Linked DNA regions of Homo sapiens. The protein of the gene in region 1 purifies or fractionates together with the protein of each later gene. This does not show direct contact. Each region holds a gene or a part of one and is shown in the gene's direction. Other genes may lie near its edges.

Region 1 (3,500 bases):
AAATAAATCCTCCCTCCCGCAGACCTGTGGGGCCCTTCGGATTTCCTGCCGCTGCCATGATCCTTAACAATGCGATTGAAAAGCCAGTGCTCGGCTGGAAAAAAATCCCCAGGTGCCAGCCGGCCGCGCCTTGACCTTGCTGAAGGAGCCTTTAACCCGGCTGCCAGAGGGGCTCTGGTCCAGCCGTGGGAATCCAGGAAGAAGGAGGGCGCCCCGGAGGCGGCTGGGTTAGCTCCCCGGGCAGGGCGGGAATCAGGTCGCGGCGGGGACCGCAGAGGGGGAGGGGACGGGACTCCGCGGCAACCTGTTTCCCGGCGAGCCGGGCCCGCGCATCCCAGCTCCCTCGCCCCAGCCCCTCGTGGCCCGCCTCCCCCGCCGGCCTCCAGTTGTCTTCGTGGTACAGGAGTCGGCCGCGACTCCCTCGCGCTCTCCGCCGGAGTCCGCGGGACGCCGCCAACTTTGGGCTCCTCGGTGGCCGGAGCAGCGGTGCGAACCAGCGGGGCGGCCGGGTGGGCGGGGCCTGGGCGGGAAACTGGAGCCGAGAAGACCGCGTTCCAGGCCAAGTTCCAGCCGCAAGCGCCGCGCGGCACAGTGCAGGGTCCCGGCCGCGCCTTTCTCCCGTCCCCGGCCCGGCCGCGTTCCTGCGGACTCACAGCGCGCTCCGGGCGCTCTGCAGTTGGGCTTTCAGCGGGGGAGCCCTTCTCGTCAAAGTTACGAGGGGTGTTTTCACTGGTGGTGACAGTGGGAACTAGTTTTCTGCGCGCCTGTGTGTGTGTGTGTGCATGTGTTGGGGAGCAGAGAGATTTGCAGCGAAGTCACACATAGCACAAAAAACAGGTTTCCCCTTTCCAGGTGTTATAAGGGAATGCTGAGGAGGAATCCGTTTTCTCCGGTGAGGGTGTTGACGGGAAGCCCTTCCACTTAGTGGAACTGGACCTGTTGGAGCTGATTGCCTGGAGTGAACGGGTGTCTCCTTTAGCGGCACCTGTGTGCCGTAGGTCCTTGGAAATGTTTGGGGAACTGAAAGTCCTCAAGATATTCAGCCAGGACTTAGGGCATAGATGTTTGTGTGCTTTTAGGGGGCTAATTCGGGGAAGCTTTTATTTCCAGCATGTGTCTTGAACTGAGGGGAGGGCAGGGTGCGGAAGGCTTGTGGAATTGCCATCTTCTGTGGTGGGGGAAGGGATCAGGGACGGAGAGCTTTGGTTTTCTAGAAAGAGTTCTTGGGTTCTTCCTCTGCTCTCATCTTGTTTTCATCAAGGCCTCTGTTTGGGGGTGGAGGTAGAGTGGTGCGGTAAGCGGATCAGCCACCCTAATAGACCGGCCTTGACCAGTGCGGATGCCAACGGGCAGAACTAGTGCTTGGTCTGAACAAGAACCATCAAAGGATAGTTCTATAGTGAGTGGAGTGACCTGGAATATGAGGTAGAAGGCTAGGTGTTAGAGTAATGGGTTCCCACGGACTCTCTTCCAATAGAATCTGATTCTATTTGGTATAGTCTCCTCAATCTTTTGTGGTTTTGTGGGAGTAAGGTGATAGGATGTGACTTTAATCTCTTAACTATTGGGTTGGAATCATGGCTCTGTGGCCTTAGGCAAATTGTCTTTGGAGCTTCAGTCCTCTCCCCTGTAAAATGGCACAATATTACTTAGTTTGCAACACTGTCAGGGTTTTTTTTTATGATCCAGTCTATAAACTTTATTCAGATTTTTCCAATTGTCCCAATAACGTCCGTTATAGCAATAGAAAATCCTGGCTTATGAGTTCATTCAGCTTTTCATGTCTCTTTAAACTCTTTTAACCTAGAACATTTCCTCATCTTTTTAAATCTTTCATATTATTGAACACTGTCAGTTTTAACATCGATAAGGCCTCTGGCATACTGTGGTCCCTTCACAGATGCTTGTTCCTTTCTACCTCCTTATCCCCTTCCAGGAAGCATCCTGCATTTGTTGGGTGGAGATTGGGCAGAGAAATCAACAGCCCCGAAAGAACCACCAACCTTGCATCCAGCCTATTTAAAACCAGCTTCAAATGCGTGAAATGAAAATTTCTTTTCTTTTCTTAGGAAAGTCATTTCCAGTTTTGTTAGAATTTGTGCTTCATTGAGTCCCTTTTTCTGACAGAGTTGCATCCTCATGCAGATTGACATGTTACATAACCCGATATTTCCAAATCAAAAGTTACAAATAAGGGAAAAGAAGGTGATTAGGAATTAAAGATTGTTGGGCAACACAAGCAAAAGACTCAATTTAAGATGCCAGCTCACACTCTAATTGTGCTAGAGGTTGAAGGAAAATGAGACTTGATAAGCACCAGTGGTGCAAGTCTCCGCCCGGGGTTCTCAGCCCCTGTCCTGGTCTAACAAACAGCTACACAGCCCCAGCCCAAACCTTTTGTAGTTCCTGTCCCAGTAACTTCTCCCACATCCATTAATCTAAAAAGTTAAACAAAAGAAGAATAGGATTTAAATCACCTCCTTGCAGATTTGATTCCAAGAGCCTAGCAGGGTAAATCAATGTCAATTCTAGATCTAAGGGGCCGATTTCTACCTGCCTTCTTACATGGTCTATCAGCTTGGCTTTTATTGTAACTGAAAGCTGAATCACTCCATCTTTGCTTTGCACTGGCAGATGGGCTGTGGGGGCCACTTTGAAAGTAATATGCCCCAGTTCTCAGGGAGCCAAGCAAACATGGATCCCTGAATGTTCTCTGTATGGAAAATGTCTAATGAAGCCATGTAGATATATGTGCCTATTGCTTCCGGGGTTATATATTTATTACTTTTTTTTTCTTTTACAGTCTTTATTCTAATGACCAAAGTAATATGTGCTCACTGTAGCAAATTCAGGCATTACAGAGAAAAGCAAAGCCAAAATGTTCCACCACATTTTGGGTTGTACCTTGTGACTTTATGAATGTAGAAAAAATGATGAGATCCTAGTATAGTGTTTTGAATGCTTATTTTCATCTAATGATAAAGCATGCAAAACTTTTCATGCTCTCTTTTCCTCCTACGGTGACATTTGTAATGCTACATAGACCCCCAATGTTATAGTATGACAGATATAATTTAATGAGTACCTAATTTTTTGACTTTGTGTTTATTTTTTTTTATTATCATAACAAGACTGTAGTAACCATCCTTGTACATACTGTGTAGTTTTAGTATTTCCTTAAGATGAATTCCTAGAAAGTAGCATTTCAGGGTTAAAGGCAGATACCATACTAAAGCTTCTGTCACACATGAAAAGCAGTTAGGTAAACCATGATGTCTCTTTCATCTTTTTAACCAGAATATGGCTATTTATTTTGCAGTCCCTTACAGGCTTGGAAGCCCAGGTGGTAGAAGAAGGCAGGGGTGACAGTCAAACTTCAAGCAGGGAATTTGCATAATTTTGAGCTGTTCTGCTGAACTGATACACAAATTCTTTTTCCAAGAACATTTTTCTTCCCTGGCTCTTGGAATCATCACTTTCTGGAGTGCTTCAGCCAGCAA
Region 2 (3,500 bases), on another chromosome or scaffold:
CAGGCACTGTGCCAGACAGAGAGTCAAGACAGAGCCACAGCCCCTGGTCTCAAGAAATTTAGAGAATGATAAAATGAACCAGTGGTTATAACATTGTATGGTAAGTGTTGTACAGTTAAGAAGTATAATAAGTGCAAGAGGCTGAGGTAGGCTTTCCGGAGGAGGTGACATCTAGAGCTGTGTGTACCAAGAATGACCTAGAGATATGAGAGAGCATGGAATTTGGGGAAACGTAAGTATGCATGACTGGAACATATGGTGCTAAGTAAAGAACTAAGAAATGAAGTTGTAGGTGGCAGAAAGAAACAGGACTCAGATCATGAAGACTGCTGTATATCATGATAAAGAGTTTGGATTTTTTCCCTCCTAAAGGTTATTTTATCAATTATCTTTTGCTGGTTAATAAGCCAATCTAAAACTTAGTGGATTAAAACAGCAACTATTTATTTAGCTCATAAATCTGTGTCTTGGCAATTGAGACTGGTGTCAGTTGGGAGATTTCCCCAGTCCTGGCTGAACTCACTCATGTATATGTGGTTGGGTACTGGCCACAGGCAACTTAGCTTCTGAGGAACAGGATGTTAGATGGAATGGCAGGAGAGATTTGGCCACGTTTCTCTTATCATTCATCAGGGTAGCCTGGGTTTGTTCACATGGCAACTGGCAGGCTTTTAAGACTGAGAGCGGAAGTAAGCAAGGCCTTTTGAAATCTCACCTTGGAACTAGCGCAGAGTTGCTCCTGCACATTCTATTGGCCAAAAGAAGTCTTACAGGCAGCCCAGATCCAGGCGGTGGAGAAATAGACCACATTTCTTGATTGAAGAAGCTGCAAAATCACATTGCAAAGCAGTGTAGATACAGGGTATGTTGAAAGTTGTGGCCATTTTTGCAATGTCACAGTCATAGAGAAAATTGAAGAATTTTAAGCAGGGAATTGATATAATTGGATTGGACTTATAGAAACATGATTTTTACAGAGGTGTGGAAAATGGATAAATGAGGACAAATTTGGAGGGAAAGAGAGGTTAGAAGGATAATTCATTAATTCAATTGAGAAATATTGTCAGACTGATCTATGGCTAGTGTTAGCGAAAAAAGAGAAGATGAAGTAATTTTGAATGATAAAGGAGGTAGAGGCTTGATGAATATTCAGTTCTGGGAAATAAGGGACCCAGAGAAGTAAAGTATGGCTCCAATATTCTGACTTTGTAAACTCAGAAATCATTAAGTTTTTCAAAGAGGTAGACAATATAGGATCAGTAGCAGGTTTGGGTTGGAAGATGGTGATTTAAGTTTTGGGCATGTTGAGTTTTATATGGCTGTGAGAACCTCAAATGGATGTGTCTACTGGGAGACACATTTGTCTGGATTTAGGGAGAGAGGTCTGAGCTTTGGAAGTCCTTCACATAGAGGTAGCAGGTGATGCCGTGGGAATATATGATATCACTCACGGAGATAACTTAGTATGAGAAAGACGGATAAGGATGGAACTCTGGGAAATGTTACATTTTAAAAGAGGTGGATGGAGGAAACGGAGCTCATCAAAGAGTGTAAGAAGCAGCAGCAAGAAAGGTAAGACAAAAACAACAAAGAGTAGTGTCCCAAGAGCTAAGGGGAAAGGCAACTGGGGTCAAGCCTTTAAGGAAGTCAAATAGGAAGAGGACTAAGTAACCCTAGGATATTACTGAGGATCCACTTTAGGGATGGTTTTAGTGAAATAGTGGAAGTAAAACCCAGACTATGATGGGTCAAGGAGCAAATGAAAGGTAGGGAGGAAAGACAAAAAGTTCAATTTCTTTTTTTTTTTTTTTTGAGATGGAGTCTTGCTCCGTCACCCAGGCTGGAGTGCAGTGGCGCAATCTCAGCTCACCGCAACCTCCGCCTCCCAGGTTCAAGCAATTCTCCTTCCTCAGCTTCCCGAGTAGCTGGGATTACAGGCACCTGCCGCTGCGCCCAGCTGATTTTTGTACTTTGAGTAGAGACGAGGTTTCACCATCTTGGCCAGGCTAGTCTCGAACTCCTGACCTGCCTCGACCTCCCAAAGTGCTGGGATTACAGGCGTGAGCCAATGTGCCCGGCCAAAAGTTCAGTTTCTAGAGGGAGAGGTGGGTTAGTTTTAAACTGGGAGAAACATGAGAGCGTTGGTGTGCTGAGGAGTAAGAGCCAGTTGGGATGGAGAGAGTAATGGAGAGAAGAGGAAGAAAATAATGCCCTCTTGATCCATGTGGGGTTCTTTTTAAAATTCTCCATTCTTCAAGGTAACCCAGAACTCCTCAGAATTAATTTGCCCCTCTCCCATCTGCTCCAAAGTCCCAGGGTGCGCACATCCTTAAATACAAGTGTTTATTGCCCTGCATCCCCCCACCCCCAAGAGTTAGCCTTTGCATGCATCTTATATTAAGTATTGAAGGAGAATGTGGAGTCCCTTTAGATCCATTATGATGGAACTGTTGTGTCCTCTTCCAACTACTGATCTTTCAGCTATTCCTAGAGATATCTATAGTTTCAGTATGGGAAATCTTTTCCCTCTACTCCAGTAATAGGGCATTTGTAAGTTTTATTTCAATAAAGAATGCAAGAAAGTAACGATAAAGAGCAAAGTCATAATGCTACCAGGAAAATAAATGGTCTTTATTCTCTTTTCCAGTTTTCTTTCAAAAATATTCTCAGCTTCTTGAAAAAAAGACTACAAAAGAGCTGGTTCATACAACATTGGAGTGTGTGAAAAAAAATATGCCCGTGGAAGGTAAAAATTAATGTGCCTAGAATTCAGTTGCTGAATGTACTATGTAAGGATCCCAAATCAATATTTCCAGTAAGATTCCCAGGTAGATCATACTGAAAAGTTGAGTCTCACAATAATTTAAGCTACAAATGTACAAATATCTAGGACATGCTGGGCATGGTGGCTCACACCTGTAATCCCAGCACTTTGGGAGGCTGAGGCGTGTGGATCACAAGGTCAACAGATCGAGACCATCCTAGCCAAAATGGTGAAACCCCGTCTCCACTAAAAGCACAAAAATTAGCTAGGCATGGTGGTACACACCTGTAATCCCAGCTACTCGGGAGGCTGAGGCAGGAGAGTCGCTTGAACCCGGGAGGCAGAGGTTGCAGTGAGCCGAGGTTGTGCCACTGCACTCCACCTGGCGACGGAGCAAGATTCCGCCTCAAAAAAACCCAAAAGACAAAAAAACAAATATATAGGACATAAAATTCTTTTGTTGTTGTTTTTTTGAGACAGGGTCTCACTTTGTTGCCCAGGCTAGAGTGCAGTAGTGCGAACATGGCTCACTACAGCCTCGACCTCCCGGGCTCAAGTGATCCTCCCATTTCTGCCTCCTGAGTAGCTGAGACTACAAGCACACGCCACTACACTCAGCTAATTTTTGTATTTTTTGTAGAGATGGAGTTTCACCATGTTGCCCAGGCTGATCTTGAACTCCTAAGCTTAAGTGATGTGGCTGTCTCAGCTTCTTGAAGGGCTGGGATTATAGGCG
Region 3 (3,500 bases), on another chromosome or scaffold:
TAGTAAACAGGCTCCCCAAACACCGCCTTCTCTCTCATCTCCAAAGATTTTGAGATGTCGCCAGCGGCCACTGGAAGGCTATCATCACTGCATTAAAAATGAATCCCAGCGAAGGCAAGAGAAGTTCATGCAAAATTAGTGCCTCTGATCCTTAATCTCATACTCAAATGTGCTTGGCTTTCATCCACTTTCCTCTTTGGGATAGAGTTCTCTTCATTTGACTGCATTCTCAAATTGAGGATTTGGCTTGAGACGTCTAAATTCATCATTGACTTAAAAAACAAAACAAACCCCAGAAGTATAATGCTATGCCCATAGTTCTTTGTTCAGAGAACAAGACAGGGAGCTGGAGCTTGAGGATGAGTGCTGAGAGGAGGGAGGGGTGCCCTCTTGAGTAGCAGCCATAAAAAGCAAGGGATCCTCATATTTTTGCCTTAAAGAGTGGTGTTTCAGTGTGTCTCTTGTATTTAGTTTGTGATGGTCCCTCAGTACTTACTGTTTTGTGTGTGTGTGTGTGTGTGTGCTTCTAATTTGTGTTGTTTCTCTGCTGAAGGTAAGCTGGGTCTTCTCTTTCCTCCCTGCTTCTTTCCTTTCTCTCCTTTTCTTTTTCTTTTTCTTTTTTTTTTTTTTTTTTTCTTTTTGAGACGCAGTTTCACTCTGTTGCCCAGGCTGGAGTGCAGTGGTACAGTCTCGGCTCACTGCAACCTCTGCCTCCCAGGTTCAAGCAACTCTCCTGCCTCAGCCTCCTGAGTAGCTGGGATTATGGGCACCCACCACCACACCCAGCTAATTTTTGTATTTTTAGTAGAGACATGTTTTCACCATTTTGGCCAGGCTGGTCTCGAACTCCTGACCTCAAGTGATCCACCCACCTTGGCCTCCCAATGTGCTGGGATTATAGGCATGAGCCACCGCACCCAGCCTCTCCTTTTCTTTTTCTTTTGTTTCCTTTTTTCTCCAAGAAGTTCAAAGTGATTGATGGGCTTCTAGGTAGAGGTGGGGAGGAAGGAAGGGAAGGAAAGGGTAGAAAGTTGTTCTAGTTCCCACTTGAATTCCTCAAGAACTCCCACCCTTGGACAAAGTAGACATGACCAAATGTTTCCACATTTGATTTTGTCCTAGGGCACATAGTGGTGAATGTGAGAAGTAGAAGGGACAGGGGATGGGAAACAAGGAGAGTGGGGCAGTCTTTAAGGCCTTCCTTGTACCCAAATGTCCCCAGACCTCAAACAAAGGTCACTCTATAATAGAAGTGTTGTTGTTGTTTTTTAATGGAGTCATGCTCTGCTGCCCAGGCCCGAGTGCAGTGGCTATTTGCAGGTGCAGTTATAGTGCACTGCAGCCTCAAACTCATGGCCTTAACCGATCCTCCTCCCTTAGCCTCCTGAGTAGCTAGGATTACAGGTGTGCACCACCCCACCTGGCCTGGGCCAGTGTTCCAGTCCCTGCCATTGGTAGCCCAAGTGAGCATTAAGTGGTACTTGGTACCAGATTGTATTAATTTGCTAGGGCTGCCATAACAGTGTACTACAGACTGGGTGGCTTACACAAGGAACATTTATTTTATCACAGTTCTGGAGGCTAGAAGTTCAAGATCAAGGTCTTGGCAGAGTTGATTTCTTGTGAGGCCTGTCTCCTTGGCTTGTAAATGGCATCTCCCTGCTGTATCTTCACATGGTCTTCCCTCCATGTGTGTCTGTGTCCTAACCTCCTCTTCTTACAAGGATATCAGTCATATTGGACTAGACTCCTTCAAATGATCTCATTTTCATGTAGTCACCTATTTAAAGGCCCTGTCTCCAAATACTATCATAGTCTGAAGTGCTAGAGATTAGACTCCAATGTTTGAATTTTAGTGGGATGCAGTTCAGCCAAAACTTAGATCATTTGCAGCCCAATAAATAAACCTGACTGATAGCTCTTTATTTCACTGGCCAGGAATTCCAGGGTATAGAAATATGGTAATTCAATTGATCCCGGGGGCCTTGAGGTGGGAACTCAGTATTGATGGACACAGTTGTTCATTTTGGAGAGGTTGAACCCTGTTATTTGCTTTCAGATAAGCATTGGGTCTCAGTCCTGGCAGCACAATAAAATCTCCTGGGGAGACTAAAAAAATATCTATGGACATTCAGGCTGCACCCCAAGACTTCTGATGTAATTGGCCCTGGGAGAGCCAGTCACTGATCTCTTTTTGAAAGCTCCCCAGGCAATTCTAATATGCAGCTAGAGTTGAGGACACCTCTGGAGTTCAGAGGGGAGGGTGACCTTCTGCCCATGCATCAGGTCATCCAAGGGCACAGAGTGTGGCTGGGTGTCCCCTTCACCCCCTACCCTAGGGCTCATCACCAGGGAGACCAGGACTGTATTTCCCCAGCATATCAGCACCTCGCAACACAGACACCTGTGCATGCACAGCCATGCAAACACACGCATGCACACACCCTTCCCTCTGCATTTCATGATGCCTCAGTCACATCATCCTTTTTATTCAAGATTTATCTTTACTTTAAAAAAATTTATGGAGTGAAAAGCCAGCTCGTAACTAAAGAAAAACAAACCAAATGTCCGAAGGAGTTGTCTAGAGGCCACAGAAGAAGAGAGATGAATAGCCAGTGTCTGAATCTGCTCATCTGTTTCCATGGAAAGTGACTACATCTGAAAAGTTTTCTGCCGGCTCTTTTTATGGCAGAGAAGAGTCTCGGCCCACAAGTGGTCCCTGTTATTGATGGCTTTGGTCTCCCAGGTGCTTTATTGGAAAGGGGAGCCTAGCAGCAGTTTCAGGGAAGAAACAGAAAGGAAGAGGGTAAAAGTTAATTGAACTCAGTTTTATCTGATTTCATCCTCGTAGCAACTCTGTGAGATCAGGACCAGTCTCATTTGCAGATGAGAACTCAGCCTCAGAGAGGGTAACAAAGTTGCCCAAGACCACCCAGCTAGGGAGCAGAGCTGAGGCAGGCTCCAGCACCAGGGCTGGCCAGAGTACAGGGATGGGGCCAGGCTGGGGACTTCGCCTGCAAGGGTGTTGGGGGTAGGGAGGAGCAAGGCCAGAAAAAAAAAGTACCACAATTTGCCTAACCTTTCTTGAAAGTTCATGGGGTCATTGCTGCCATTTTGGTTACCTTCTGAATAGACTGACCTTTTCCTACCCTCCCATCAGCATCATTTCATCACAGTCCTTCCAAAGTGGGTGCACTCACAAAGTGGTCCAGTGGGGTAGGAAAAACATGTCAGAACTTCTGTTCTTGCCTATTGGTTTTCCATCTTAATAAAAAAAGGAGTTAAGTTTTGCTTATAATTAACATATAAATTGACAGAACAACATGTAATTTATAAATAAGTGTGCATATATTGGAGATGTGTTCTCAAAATGTTTCTGTTCATAATGTTTTTTATAATTGTTTCTGCCAGTAATAATAATTATTTTTTAAAACTTTTATTTTAGGTTTGGGGGTGCATGGGAAGGTTTGTTGCGTAGATGAGTTCATGAGTTAAAAAAA
Region 4 (3,500 bases), on another chromosome or scaffold:
GTTTTCTCCTATCTCCAGCAAAGGCTGATGGGAGGTAATCAAGCCCCCTTCTCTTCTTGCCTCAGGGACTGGAATTGACATCCCTGTCCTGCTCCTCCTGATTGATGGTGATGAGAAGATGTTGACGGTATAGGGGCCCGGATGCCCGGATCTAAGGGGGAAGGAGGGTTGGGGGCCAGGACTCCTGGGTCCTGAGTCTTAGGGAGGGTCTGGGGGTCTGACTCCGGGTAGGGTGAATATCCTGCCTTTTCTGACGTGATGAATAAAGAATGCCTTTATCCTGTAGCGAATAGAGAACGCCACCCAGGCTCAGCTCCCATGTCTCCTCGTGGCTGGCTCAGGGGGAGCTGCGGACTGCCTGGCGGAGACCCTGGAAGACACTCTGGCCCCAGGGAGTGGGGGAGCCAGGCAAGGCGAAGCCCGAGATCGAATCAGGCGTTTCTTTCCCAAAGGGGACCTTGAGGTCCTGCAGGCCCAGGTATGACACTGGGGGCCCAACTCTGGATCCTGAGATGGGAGGGAACTGGGGACTTGGGCTCCTGGGTCTGAGGGAGGAGGGGCTGGGGGCCTGGACTTCCAGGTTCCGGGAGAAGAGGGTGCTGGGCATATAGACTATTAGGTCCTGGAGGGGAATGGCCTCCTCCATCCCTTTGGACAGGGCCCAACAGGAGTTGGGGATGGAGGCGGGCTAGGGATGCAGAACTGGCTATTCCACAGGTGGAGAGGATTATGACCCGGAAGGAGCTCCTGACAGTCTATTCTTCTGAGGATGGGTCTGAGGAATTCGAGACCATAGTTTTGAAGGCCCTTGTGAAGGGTAAAAGTTGTACCCTCCAGTCTTCCCCCTCTCTCAGTTCAACCTTAGACACCTTTCCTGGCCTGGGCACTTCATCCACCCTCTCTAATCCAAGGCCCATGCCCCCTTTACCCCTCTTAATATTTTTCCCCTTTGGGGCTTTGCATGGTGCTATTTGGGCAGTTTTCCCAGATGCTTTCATTATGTTCCAGCATCTGCTTTCCTCTGTTGGATCCATCCATCCATTCTTTCATCTTTCCATCCATCCACATGTACAGATCGATCTTTCCATCTCTTTACCTACCATCCTTCCAGTCATCCCTCATTCTTTCATCCATCCATCCTTTCACCTGTCCATCCACACATCCACTGACAATTCCTGAGAATTCCATCCGCTCATTCCTCCATCCGTCTTCTCACCTGTCCATCCACACATCCACTGACAATTCCATTCAGTCATTCTTCCATCCATCCATCTTCTCACCTGTCCATCCATGCATCCACTGACAATTCCTGAGAATGCCATCTGCTCATTCTTCCATCCATCCATCTTCTCACCTGTCCATCTACACATCCACCGAAAATTCCTGAGAATTCCATCCACTCATTCCTCCATCCATCCATCTTCTCACCTGTCCATCCACACATCCACTGACAATTCCATTCACTCATTCTTCCATCCATCCATCTTCTCACCTGTCCATCCACACATCCACTGACAATTCCTGAGAATGCCATCCGCTCATTCCTCCATCCGTCTTCTCACCTGTCCATCCACACATCCACTGACAATTCCTGAGAATTCCATCCGCTCATTCCTCCATCCGTCTTCTCACCTGTCCATCCACACATCCACTGACAATTCCATCCACTTATTGTTCCATCCATCCATCTTCTCACCTGTCCATCCACACATCCACTGAAAATTCCATTCACTCATTCTTCCATCCATCCATCTTCTCACCTGTCCATCCACACATCCACTGACAATTCCATTCACTTATTCTTCCATCCATCCATCTTCTCACCTGTCCATCCATGCATCCACTGACAATTCCTGAGAATGCCATCTGCTCATTCTTCTATCCATCCATCTTCTCACCTGTCCATCTGCACATCCACTGAAAATTCCTGAGAATTCCATCTACTCATTCCTCCATCCATCCATCTTCTCACCTGTCCATCCACACATCCACTGACAATTCCTGAGAATTCCATCCGCTCATTCCTCCATCCATCCATCTTCTCACCTGTCCATCCACACATCCACTGACAATTCCATTCACTCATTCCTCCATCCACCCATCTTCCATCCATTTACCCATCTACCCATCCATCTTTTCATTCATCCATCCAACTGTTCTTCCATCTATCCATCCACCCACCCATTCTTCCTTCCCTACATGCTTCCAATATACATGAAGCACTCTGGCTAGACATGAACCAAAGCACTGTCTCCCAGTGAGGAAGTCCAGATATTTCACTAGAAATGGCAGCTTGGAGGACGGAATGATGAAAACCAAGGCGGGGGAGCATAATGCACACCTGGGAGAGGCTGGGGAGGGTCTTATTTATTTATTCACTTATTGAGACAGGGTCTTGCTCTGTAGGCCAAGCTGGAGTATAGTGGTGTGATCACGGCTCAGTGCAGCCTCAACCTCCCAGGCTCAAGTGATCCTCCCACCCCAGCCTTCCAAGTAGCTGGGAACATACCCGCCCACCACTACACCTGGTAAATTAAACAAAAAAAAAATTTTTTTTTTGTACAGACGAGGTCTTGCTCTGTTGCCCATGCTGGTCATGAACTCCTGGCCTCAACTGATCCTCCTGCCTCAGTCTCCCAAAGTGCTGGGATTACAGGCATGAGCCACCATGCCAGCCTCCTTTATTTAGTCAACAAATACAATCCTAGGCTCCAGAGACTAAAGCCAACCCATTTCCTGCTCTCAAAGACCCCAGATCCCACTAGGATTGTTTGGATACAACCTTAGGTAAAATTTAAGACAGAAGCACAGGCAAGAATCACTGTCGTTAGAAGGAAAACTTCAAGGAAAAGTTGTGTGTGTGTGTGTGTGTGTATTTTGAGACAGAGTCTTGCTCTGTCGCCCAGGCTGGAGTGCAGTGGTGCGAGCTTGGCTCACTGCAACCTCCGCCTCCCGGGTTCAAGCGATTCTCCTGCCTCACCCTCCTGAGTAGCCGGGATTACAGGCACGTGCCATCATGCCCGGCTGATTTTTGTATTTTTAGTAGAGACGGTGTTTCACCATGTTGGTCAGGCTGGCCTCGAACTCCTGACCTCATGATCCATCCACCTCGGCCTCCCAAAGTGCTGGGATTACAGGTGTGAGCCACTGCACCTGGCCAGAGAAGTTGGCATTTAAACCGGACCTTGGCCAGGCACAGTGGCTCACACGTGTAATTTCAGCACTTTGGGAGGCTGAGGAGGGAAGATCGCTTGAGCCCAGGAGTTTGAGACCAGCCTGGGCAGCATGGTGAAATGCCACCTCTATAAAAAATACAAATAATAAGTTGGGGAGGGTGGCGCATACCTGTAATCCCAGCTACTTGGGTGGCTGAGGCAGGGGAATCGCTCGAACCTAGGAGGCAGATTGTGCCACTGCACTCCAGCCTGGGTGATAGGGCAAGACTCTGTCTCAAAAAAAAAAAAAAAAAACCTAAATAAATAAACCAAATAAACTGGACC

What was found.
Region 2: the proteins of TENM4 (region 1) and CLEC4A purify together in Homo sapiens (co-immunoprecipitation; one large-scale study listed by IntAct). This does not show direct contact.
Region 3: the proteins of TENM4 (region 1) and EVA1C purify together in Homo sapiens (co-immunoprecipitation; one large-scale study listed by IntAct). This does not show direct contact.
Region 4: the proteins of TENM4 (region 1) and TRPM4 fractionate together in Homo sapiens (co-fractionation; one large-scale study listed by BioGRID). This does not show direct contact.

Annotation. Positions count from the first base shown.
Region 1 is NC_000011.10:79,434,531-79,438,030, reverse strand, and holds part of TENM4 (teneurin-4), read left to right. Parts: intron 1-3,500. UniProt on the Homo sapiens protein: Involved in neural development, regulating the establishment of proper connectivity within the nervous system. Plays a role in the establishment of the anterior-posterior axis during gastrulation.
Region 2 is NC_000012.12:8,126,617-8,130,116, forward strand, and holds part of CLEC4A (C-type lectin domain family 4 member A), read left to right. Parts: exon of another isoform or gene 1-1,484; coding exon of another isoform or gene 1,485-1,572; intron 1,573-2,647; coding exon 2,648-2,746; intron 2,747-3,500. UniProt on the Homo sapiens protein: C-type lectin receptor that binds carbohydrates mannose and fucose but also weakly interacts with N-acetylglucosamine (GlcNAc) in a Ca(2+)-dependent manner. Involved in regulating immune reactivity.
Region 3 is NC_000021.9:32,415,706-32,419,205, forward strand, and holds part of EVA1C (protein eva-1 homolog C isoform 1 precursor), read left to right. Parts: intron 1-3,500. UniProt on the Homo sapiens protein: Binds heparin.
Region 4 is NC_000019.10:49,171,292-49,174,791, forward strand, and holds part of TRPM4 (transient receptor potential cation channel subfamily M member 4), read left to right. Parts: intron 1-65; coding exon 66-127; intron 128-286; coding exon 287-478; intron 479-717; coding exon 718-817; intron 818-3,500. UniProt on the Homo sapiens protein: Calcium-activated selective cation channel that mediates membrane depolarization. While it is activated by increase in intracellular Ca(2+), it is impermeable to it.